2 linked regions of the Homo sapiens genome follow. The protein of the gene in region 2 purifies or fractionates together with the protein of the main gene of each other region. This does not show direct contact. Each region holds a gene or a part of one and is shown on either strand. Other genes may lie near its edges.

The links.
Region 1: the proteins of PPM1K (region 2) and ALDH1L1 purify together in Homo sapiens (co-immunoprecipitation; one large-scale study listed by IntAct). This does not show direct contact.

The regions. Positions count from the first base shown.
Region 1 is NC_000003.12:126,173,566-126,178,839, forward strand, and holds part of ALDH1L1 (cytosolic 10-formyltetrahydrofolate dehydrogenase), read right to left. Parts: intron 1-5,274. UniProt on the Homo sapiens protein: Cytosolic 10-formyltetrahydrofolate dehydrogenase that catalyzes the NADP(+)-dependent conversion of 10-formyltetrahydrofolate to tetrahydrofolate and carbon dioxide.
Region 2 is NC_000004.12:88,263,431-88,268,704, forward strand, and holds part of PPM1K (protein phosphatase Mn(2+)-dependent 1K), read right to left. Parts: intron 4,905-5,274; coding exon 4,760-4,904; intron 1,706-4,759; coding exon 1,571-1,705; intron 1-1,570. UniProt on the Homo sapiens protein: Serine/threonine-protein phosphatase component of macronutrients metabolism.

The DNA.
Region 1 (5,274 bases), on a different chromosome or scaffold from region 2:
AACAGTAATAAATATGGTAAATATTAATCCAACTATATCAAAAAATCACTTCAAATATCAATGGTGTAAATATACCAATTAAAACATGTGACTATCTAGAGTGAATAAAGAATCGTGACCTAACTATATGTTGTCTACAACAAACCCATTTCAACATAAAAACCAGATAGGTTACAAATAAAGGGATGGAGAAAGATATACCGTGCTACCACTAATCAAAAGAAATATGGAGTAGTTCTATTAACTTCAGATAAAGCAGACTTCAGAGAAAGGAAAATTATTAGGAATAAAGAGAAGCACTACATAATGGTAAAGGAGTCAATTATCCCAGCAGACATAATACTCCTTAATATGTATGTGCCTAACAACAGTGCTAAAATGTGTAAAGCAAAAACTGACAGAATTTTAAGGAGAAATAGATGAATCCACTATTATTACAGTTGGAGACATCAACACCTCTCTGTCAGTCCCCACTAACGTTTTTTTTGGGGGGGCGGAGTTTCACTCTTGTTGCCCAGGCTGGAGTGCAGTGGCACGATCTCGGCTCACTGCAACCTCCGCCTCCCGGGTTCAAGCAATTCCCCTGCCTCAGCCGCCCGAGTAGCTAGGATTACAGGCATGCACCACCACGTCCGGCTAATTTTGTATTTTTAGTAGAGCCTCCATGTTGGTCAGGCTGGTCTCGCACTCCTGACCTCAGGTGATCTGCCCACCTCGGCCTCCCAAAGTGCTGGTATTACAGGCGTAAGCCACCGTGCCTGGCCAGTACCCACTAACTGATAGATCCAGCAGGCTGGAAATCAGTAAGGACATAGTTGAACAGCACCATCAATTAAGTGTATCTAATTGGCATTTAGAGAATACTTCACCCAACAACAACAGAATACACATTCTTCTCAAGTTCACATGGAATATTCATCAAGACAGACCACATTCTGTGCCATAAAACATACAACAACAAATATCAATGACTTCTATGATGGAGATTACTGAGATCACAACAGAATCACTAGAAATCAATAACAGAAAGATATCTGAAAAACATTAAAAAAATGGAAACTAAATGACACACTTCTAAACAACATGTAAACAAATCAAAGAATAACTCTCAAGAAAAAATTTAAAATATTTCAAACTAAATTAAAATGAAAATATAACATCAAAATTTATGGGATGCTGCTAAAGTAGTGTTTAGAGGGAAATTTAGAGCACTGAATGCATATATTATTAAAGAAGAAAGAGCTAAAAGCAAGTTTCCAAATTAGGAAACTAGAAAAAGAAGAGCAAATTAAATCCAAAATAAACAGAAGAAAGGAAATAATAAAAATTACAGCAGAACTTGTGAAATTGAAAACATGCTGTCAATAGAGAAAATCAACAAAACCTAAAGCTGGTTCCTTGAAAAGATGAATAAAACTGAGACACCTCTAGCCAGGTTAACTAAGAAGAAAAAGAGAGAAGACTCAAATTACTAATATCAAAAATGAAAGAAGGGCCATCAATACTGATCCTACGGTCATTAAAAGGATAATAAAATACTAGTATGAACAACTCTATATCAACAAATTTGGTAAGTTAAATGAAATGAAACAATCCCTTGAAAGTACAACGTTCCAAAACTCACACAAAGAGAAATAGATAATCTGAATAGGCCTATACTGATTAAAGAACTGGAGCCAGTAGCCTTCCAAAATAGAAAGCACTAGGGTTAATGAATATGACTAAACATTTAAGAAAGAAATTATGCCAATTCTCTATGATCTCTTTCAAAAAATAGAAGTAGAGGAAATTCTCTAATTTTCTTGGGTCAGAATTACCCTGGTACCAAAACCAGAAACATTACAAGAAAGGAAACTAACAGATCAATATTTCTCATAAACATAGATGTTAAAATCCTCAAAAAAATCAGCAATTGAATCCAACAATGTTTAAAAAGAATTATACATAACCACCACATGGGATTTATTCTAGGTTAAACATTTGAAAATCAATTAATGTAATCCATCGCATGAATAGGCTAAGGAAGAATTATATGATCACATCAATAGATCCAGAAAATGCATTTGACAAGAATCTAACATTCATTTATGATAAGAGCTTTCAGCAAGCTAGTAATAAATGGGAACTTAACTTGATAAAGAAGATCTATGAAAAACCTACAGCTAACATCATACTTAATGGAGAGAAACTAGAAGCTTTTCCCCTAAGATCAGAAATAAGGCAAGGATGTTCCCTTTCACCCTTCCTAGTCAACATTATACTGGAAGTGCTGGCTAATGTAATTAGAAAAGAAAAGAAAATGAAAAGTCTACAGATTGGGAAGGAAGAAATAAACTGTTCTTGTTCTCAAAAAACATAATTGGCTATGTGGAAAATGCCAACAAAGCAACAGAAAACTGGAAATAATAAGTTATTCTGCCAAAGTTGCTGGATGTAAAGTCATGGTTAATATACAAAAATTGATTACTTTCTTATATACTAGCAATAAACAATTGAAATTTGAGATTAAAAACACAAAACCATTTACATTAGCACCAAAAAGTGAATTATTTATACATAAACCTAAAATAGGTCAAAATCTATGTGAGAATAACCATAACTGATGAAAACATAAAAATATGTATAAATAAATGAAGAGATAGTACATGTTCATGGGTAGGGAAACTCTATACTGTCCAGATGTCAGTTCTTTCCGACTTTATCTATAGATTCAATGCAATCCCAATCAAAACCCCAGCAGTTATTTGTGGATATCAACAAACTGATTCTCAAGTTTATTTGGAGAGACAAAAGACCTGGGATAGTCAACACAATATTGAAGGAGAACGAAGTTAGAGGACCGATACTGCCTGTCCCCAAGACTTTACTATAAAGCTACAGTAATCAAGACAGTACGGTATTGGCAAAAGAATAGTCAGATAGATCAATTGAACAGAATAGAGAGCCCAGAAGTAAACTCACATCAATACAGTCAACTGAACTTTGACAAAGAGACAAAGGCAAGACAATGGAGAAAATCTGCATTGCACAAAAATCACACAAATATCTGTACACTGATGTTTACAGCATCTTTATTTGTAACTGCCAAAACTTGGATTTGACTTTTTAGATACAACAACAACAGCACAATTCATGGAGGAAAAAAAATGGTACATTAGACCTTATTAAAATTTAAAACTTCTGCTCTGCAAAAGACACTGTTAAGAGAATGAAAAGACAAGCCATGGTTGGGGAGAGAAGACATATCTGGTAAAGCACTGTTATCCAAAATATACAAAGAACTATTAAAACTCAACAGTAAAACAAACAACCCAATTTTAAAATGGGCCAAGTAAATTAACCGACATTCACAAAAGAAGATATACAGATGGCAGAGAAGCATTTAAAAAGATGCTCAACACTGTAAGTCATTACAGATTGCAAATTAAAATATAACAATGAGATACTACTATATGCGTATTAGAAGAGTTAAATTAAGAGCACTGACAACAAATGCTGATGAGGCTGTGGAGCAACAGGAACTCTTATTTATTACTGGTAGAAATGAAAAATTATGCCACCACTATGGAAAAAGGTTTGGTAGTTTTTTATAACACGAAACATACTTTTACCATGTGATCCATCAATCGCTCTTGATATTTACTCAAAGGAGAAGAAAACTAATGTCCACACAAAAACCTGCACACAAATGTTGATAGCAGCTTTATTCACTGCTAAAACTTGGAAGCAACCAAGATATCCTGTAGTATGTGAATGGAGAAATAAACTGTGGTACCTCCACATCCATACAACAGAATATTAGTCAATGATAAAAAGAAATGGGTTACCAAGTCACAGAAAGACATGGAGGATGCTTAAATGCATTTTGCTAAGCGAAAGAAGCCAGTCTGGAAAGGCTATATACCATATGATTCATACATACTATATGACATTCTGGAAAAGGCAAAACTACAAAGGCAGTAACCAGTGGTTGCCAGGGATAGGTAGGGGGGTTGGGGGGTGGATGGGTAGAGCACAGGAGAGTTTTAGGGCAGTGAAACTATTCTCTATGATACTGTAACACTGGATACTCATCATTATATGTTTGTCCAAAACCATAGAAGGTACAACACCAAGAGGGAATTCTAATGTAAATTATGGACTTTCATTAATAACATTGCATCGATATTGGCTCACCAAGTATAACAAAATTGGCCAGGCCTGGTGGCTCACACCTGTAATCCCAGCACTTTGGGAGGCCAAGGCGGGCTGATCACTTGAGGCCAGGAGTTCAAAAGCAGCCTGGCTAACATGGTAAAACCCTGTCTCTACTATTATAAAAATACAATAATTAGCTGGGCATGGTGGTGCACCTGTAATCCCAGCTACTCGAGAGGCTGAGGCCCAAGAATTGCTTGAACCTGGGAGGCAGAAACTGTAGTGAGCTGAGATTGTGCCACTGCACTCCAGCCTAGGCAACAGAGCAAGACTGTTTCAAAAAGAAAAAAGCTGTAACAAAAATATCCTATCAATGCATGATGTTAAAAATAGGGGAGGCCAGGCCTAGTGGTTCATGCCTGTAATCCCAGCACTTTGGGAGGCCAAGGCAGAGGATCACTTGAGCCCTTGAGTTCAAGGCCAGCTTGGGCAACAAAGTGAGACCCATCTCTACAAAAAAATTTTTAAATTAGCCAGGCGTGGTTGTGCATGCCTGTAGTCCCAGCTACTTGGGAGGCTGAGGCATGAGAATCACTTGAGCCCAGGAGTTCAAAGCTGCAGTAAGCTGTGTTTGTGCCACTGCACTCCAGCCTGGGCAACAAAGTGAGACCCTGTCTCAAAAAAAAAAAAAAAGAAAAAAAAAAAAAGAAAGGAAAAGAATAGAAAGAAAAATAGGAGAAAGCGCGCAGGAAGGGACAGACTGAGAATATGGGAACTCTGCACTCCGTCCTCAATTCTTCTGTAAACCTAAAACTGCTCTAAAAATGTCTACTAATTGAAATAAATAAATGAATCTAGCTCTATAGTTCACATCTTACTCTAAAATACAGTCCAATTGGGTTAAAAATAAATACTTGAAAATCAAATATAAGAAGAAAACATTAAATTATTAGAAAATATTGGTAAATATTGAGTTATACAAACCTGACACTGTCAAAACACCCAACAAGTAACAAACCACGATAATTGTGTAAGGCTTAAGTTTGTGTGTGTGTGTGTGTGTGTCTGTGTGTGCATGCGTGTGTTTATCTGCAGGGTAAAAGCCTAGAAGAATTTACACTGAAATGTTGAAAGTTA
Region 2 (5,274 bases):
TCATCTAGAAATTTTATTTATTTATTGAGACAGGGTCTTATTCTGTCACCCAGGCTGGAGTGCAGTGGCACGATCTCGGCTCACTGCAGCCTTGACCTCCCAGACCCAGGTGATCTTCCTACCTTAGCCTTCTAAGTAGCTGACACCACAGGCATGTACCACCATGCCCAGCTAAGTAAAAAAAATATTTTTTTTTGTACAGACTGGGTCTCGCCATGTTGCCCAAGCTGGTCTTGAACTCCTGGGCTCAGGCAATCTTCCCATCTCAGCCTCCCAAAGTGCTGGCATTACAGGTCTAAGCCACCAAACCTGGCCTAAAGATTGTATTTCTAAGGGCTCAAGCAATCCTCCCACCTCATCCTCCCTCATAGCTGGGACTATACATGCATGCCACCACACCTGGATACTATTCCTAAGAATGAAACCTATTTCCTGAAGGAAACAGATATGCACAAATAGACATCAGAATGTTTATTACTGGGCTTCCTCTATAGAATGGAAAAAATAAACATAAACTAAATTTCTTGACCAGAGGAACTGTTAAATGAATTATGTATAAGAATAAAATGGAACACTATGCATTCATTACAAATTTCATTACCTTTGTGAATTAGAATGCAAATATCTGCAAGACAGGCAGCTGAAATTAGGAAAGAAGTGTTCATCCATGAAATTGGGCCTATTTCCTCAATTTCATGAATACCCTGTTTAGCACGGGTGAAGGCAGTAACCAAATGAATAATTCATATATTATAATCATGTTTGCCCATCTAAGCAAATAATACTTTTAAAGTAAGGTCTATTATCTTAATTTGGGAAATGCAAAAATAGCTGTTGAATTAAAACATGCCTCTAATATTTTAAATAATACGAAGCATAGTTTATGTTTTCTTTACTGGATATTACCCAGCTTTCTTTTAATTTTAGTTCTGACTGACACACAACCTCATCCCTATGCCTTTTGGTATTTTGGTTTATCTTCTCCACACACCCATTCTGAATAACCAGAAGGTGACTATGCTATATCTTCAAATTGGATATTTGCTTGGAGCACTCTAGTTTAACGGTCAAGTGGTTGGACTTGGGAACCTAGTTGTCTGGGTTTGAAGTCCAGTTCTGCAATTTAATAGTTTTATGACCTTCAGTGATTAACTCTGTAGCCTCTGTACCTGTTTTCCTCATCTGTGAAAAAGGACAATAATAGCTCCAACCTAATAGGGTTATTGTGATGATTACAATATATGTAACTGTACATACTGTACAATACATACAGTAATGAGCTAATACATATGAATATTGTCTGACACATAGCAAGTGAATATTAGTTTACTATTATAATTTACTATTGCTGTTACTATCATTTCAAGGTATATACAAAGCCAAAGAATAAACAAAGCACATTTCCTTGGCATATTAAAATTTTAACTTGGGGAAATAAAAATTTTATAATTGGAAATATTATGGAATCAAGTGTAAAATTCACTGCAACACTCAAAAGCTAAAACACAATGCCTGGACTGTCCTTTCCTTCCTTCTCCTTGGGACTTTTCAGGCAGAAGCTCTGGGTCACCTGTTCAGTCACCGCATGGGCTGCTTCGTTGGGATCATGGCACTGATTGACAAAGTCACAAATCTCTTGACTATTCACCATGAAGTTAATTCCATCTGTGGTGAGGACCAGGAAGCTGTCATCAGCATGATGTAACTGCAATCAGAACCAAATGCCTATGATTATAAGCTAGACTCTGCCTTAGCACAATCTCGCTAATTCAAAGATTTTACCTGTTTTGCTAAGCGGTCATCTGTGTAACAGCTTGTAAGCTGATATGGTTTGGCTGTGTCCCCACCCAAATCTCATATTGAATTATAGCTACCATAATTCCCATGTGTTGTGGGAGGGACCTGGTAGGAGGTAACTGAATCATGGCGGTGGGTCTTTCCCATGCCGTTTTCATAATAGTGAAGTCTCACAAGATCTGATGGTTTTATAAAGGGTAGTTCCCCTGCACATGCTCTCTTGCCTGCCACCATATAAGACATGACTTTGCTCCTCTTTCACCTTCCACCATGATTGTGTGGCCTCTCCAGCCATGTGGAACTGTGAGCCCATTAAACCTCTTTCCTTTATAAATTACCCAGTCTCAAGTATATCTTTATTAGCAGTGTGAGAACAGACCAATACATAGGCAAACAGTGAAAATGTAAAGCCTACCTGTTGGGCAAAAGTAGTAACATTTAGAATTAACCAGCAAGGATAAAGCTAATATTTAGTTAGTAAAATATAAATAGTAGTTAAAAGTAAAGAGTAAAGAAGTTGCAATCCTCTGAAATCCCATCACCAGAGGTAATCACGCCTAACAATTTAGCAAACACCCTTCAAGATATCTTGATTTAATTCCATAATTTAACATCACAAAGGGAGAATCCAGATAGCCCAATGGTGAGAGGTAGCTCAATGTAATGGTTATGAGTGCTGTCTCTAAGAGCAGGCTTCTAGGATTTGAATCCTGCCTCTATTATCTGGCTGGGTGAGCAGAGGTGCATTGACCTCTGTATGCTTTAGATTTTCCTTGAAAAATGGGGATAGTAGTACTTATTTTGAACAGAGCCCAGCACATAGTAAACTCTGCCTAAGTATCTGTTAGATAAAATGAAGTGGGATATCTATAACACACGATGTGGGATATCTATAGACTTGAAACCCTTCATGCAATTAATTAACAAGTGTTTGCTGCCAGTTTTGGAAGCCTACACTATACTGTGCTAGAGACTATAGTGGCTCAGGAGTTTTAGAGAACTGTCAGCTCATGGACTGGGTGTGTGTTGGGGGGCAGTTCAGGACAATGAAGACACTGATTAGTAGCATGCAAAGGATGCCACAGAAGTAGAGGTGGGCGATTATTTGGCTTGGTGGAAAAGGGAAGTTGGGGCAGCTTCCAAGTGGAGGTGATGCTGGCTGATTGGGTGCAGGTGATGCTGATTGATTGGGTGCAGGTGATGCTGGCTGGGTGCAGGTGTTGCTGGCTGATTGGGTGCAGGTGATGCTGATTGGGTGCAGGTGATGCTGGCTGAATGGGTGCAGGTGATGCTGATTGGGTGCAGGTGATGCTGATTGACTGCGTGCAGGTGATGCTAGCTGATTGGGTGCAGGTGATGCTGGCTGACTGGGTGCAGGTGATGTTGGCTGATTGGGTGCAGGTGATGCTGATTGGGTGCAGGTGATGCTGGCTGATTGGGTGCAGGTGATGCTGGCTGATTGGGTGCAGGTGTTAGCTGATTGGGTGCAGGTGATGCTGATTGGGTGCAGGTGATGCTGGCTGACTGGATGCAAGTGATGCTGGCCGATTGGGTGCAGGTGATGCTGGATGACTGGGTGCAGGTGATGCTAGATGACTGGGTGCAGGCGATGTTGGCTGATTGGGTGCAGGTGATGTTGGCTGATTGGGTGCAGGTGATGCTGGCTGTGTGCAGGTGATGCTGATTGGGTGCAGGTGGTGCTGGTTGACTGGGTGCAGGTGCTGCTGATTGGGTGCAGGTGATGCTGATTGGATGCAGGTGATGCTGATTGGGTGCAGGTGATGCTGGTTGATTGGGTGCAGGTGATGCTGGCTGACTGGATGCAGGTGATGCTGATTGGGTGCAGGTGATGCTGATTGGATGCAGGTGATGCTGATTGGGTGCAGGTGATGCTGGCTGATTGGGTGCGGGTGATGCTGGCTGATTGGGTGCAGATGATGCTGGCTGATTGGGTGCAAGTGATGCTGATTGATTGGGTGCAGGTGATGCTGGCTGATTGGGTGCAGATGATGCTGGCTGATTGGGTGTGGGTGATGCTGGCTGATTGGGTGCAGGTGATGCTGGCTGACTGGGTGCAGGTGATGCTGATTGCTTGGGTGCAGGTGATGCTGGCTGATTGGATGCAGGTGATGCTGATTGTGTGCAGGTGATGCTGGATGACTGGGTGCAGGTGATGCTGCATGATTGAGTGCAGGTGATGCTGGCTGATTGGGTGCAGGTGAGGAAGAACAGCAGGACCATTTCACCAGGAGAATTCCATAGCTGGGGTGAAACAAAAACCTAACACTTCAAACTGAGGGAAGCCAAAATATTTCTCCCCGAAATATTGAGGATTGCTAAAGTCAAGTCACTGAAAAGGCAGGGGTACACTTCCTCAGCCTCTACTTGCCTGGTGGCAGGACATCAGTCCTTCTTTACTGGAGACAGCACTTGTTTATTGGCCCAGAGAAGGAACCAGCAGGCACCAGAGAAATCTGGGAACAGGTTTTACTATCTCTCCACATTTTCCTGACTTTTAAAAGACTGAAACTGTTCTCTTCTTTATCTTGTCACTATGCAGGATCTATGGCTATTTAAATACAATTTAAGCAAAGCCCCTAAGCCACTGCCTTGGAAGAGAAATACTTTTAACTGAGGCCTTTCCCGTACAATGGGTTCAGCACGTGCAAATGTCTGCTTGTTTGTTTGTTGTTGTTGTAGTTAATCTGACTTTTATTTTCAAGAAAGTGTCTCAACTAAGAACCTAAAAAGGGGGAAAAAGAGAATTGTTTTGTCCTCTACAATAAATTAGGCCAGAATAGTAGCATCTTATTTTACCTGAAAAGTTTTTTTATCCTTCCATAAATTACTCCCTTTTAAAAATCATTTTGGCTTCAGTTAAGGCTTCCAAGAAAGGTGCAGCAGAGACAATCCTACATTCACTCTCCGCAGGTTTATCAAGTGTTTGCAGGTCCTTTCTTACCTTAATCCTCTTAGTTTCAGGTTCTGCTATGACACCACTGGTCTTAAGGTCCAAATCTCCAATACTTCTTGTCATTGCAAGCCTGCCATTTACGTGAGGCTGCCCCAAACTATTCCAAGCTACAAAACCACCACATTTCTTGATCCTGTTAAAAGTTAAATGACAATGGTGTGATATGTAGAAAACCCTTTGGGAGGCCAAGGAGGGCAGATCACGAGGTCAGGAGATCGAGACCATCCTGGCTAACACGGTGAAACCCCGTCTCTACTAAAAAACAAAAAATTAGCCGAGCGTGTTGGCAGGCGCCTGTAGTCCCAGCTACTCAGGAGGCTGAAGCAGGAGAATGGTGTGAACCCGGGAGGTGGAGCTTGCAGTGAGCCAAGATTGCGCCACTGCACTCCAGCCTGGGCGACAGAGTGAGACTCTGTCTCAAAAAAACAAAAAGAAAACCAAGTCACTGTTAAACTTAACCATGACATCAGTTTAAAAACTATTATGAACTAAAAACATCATCC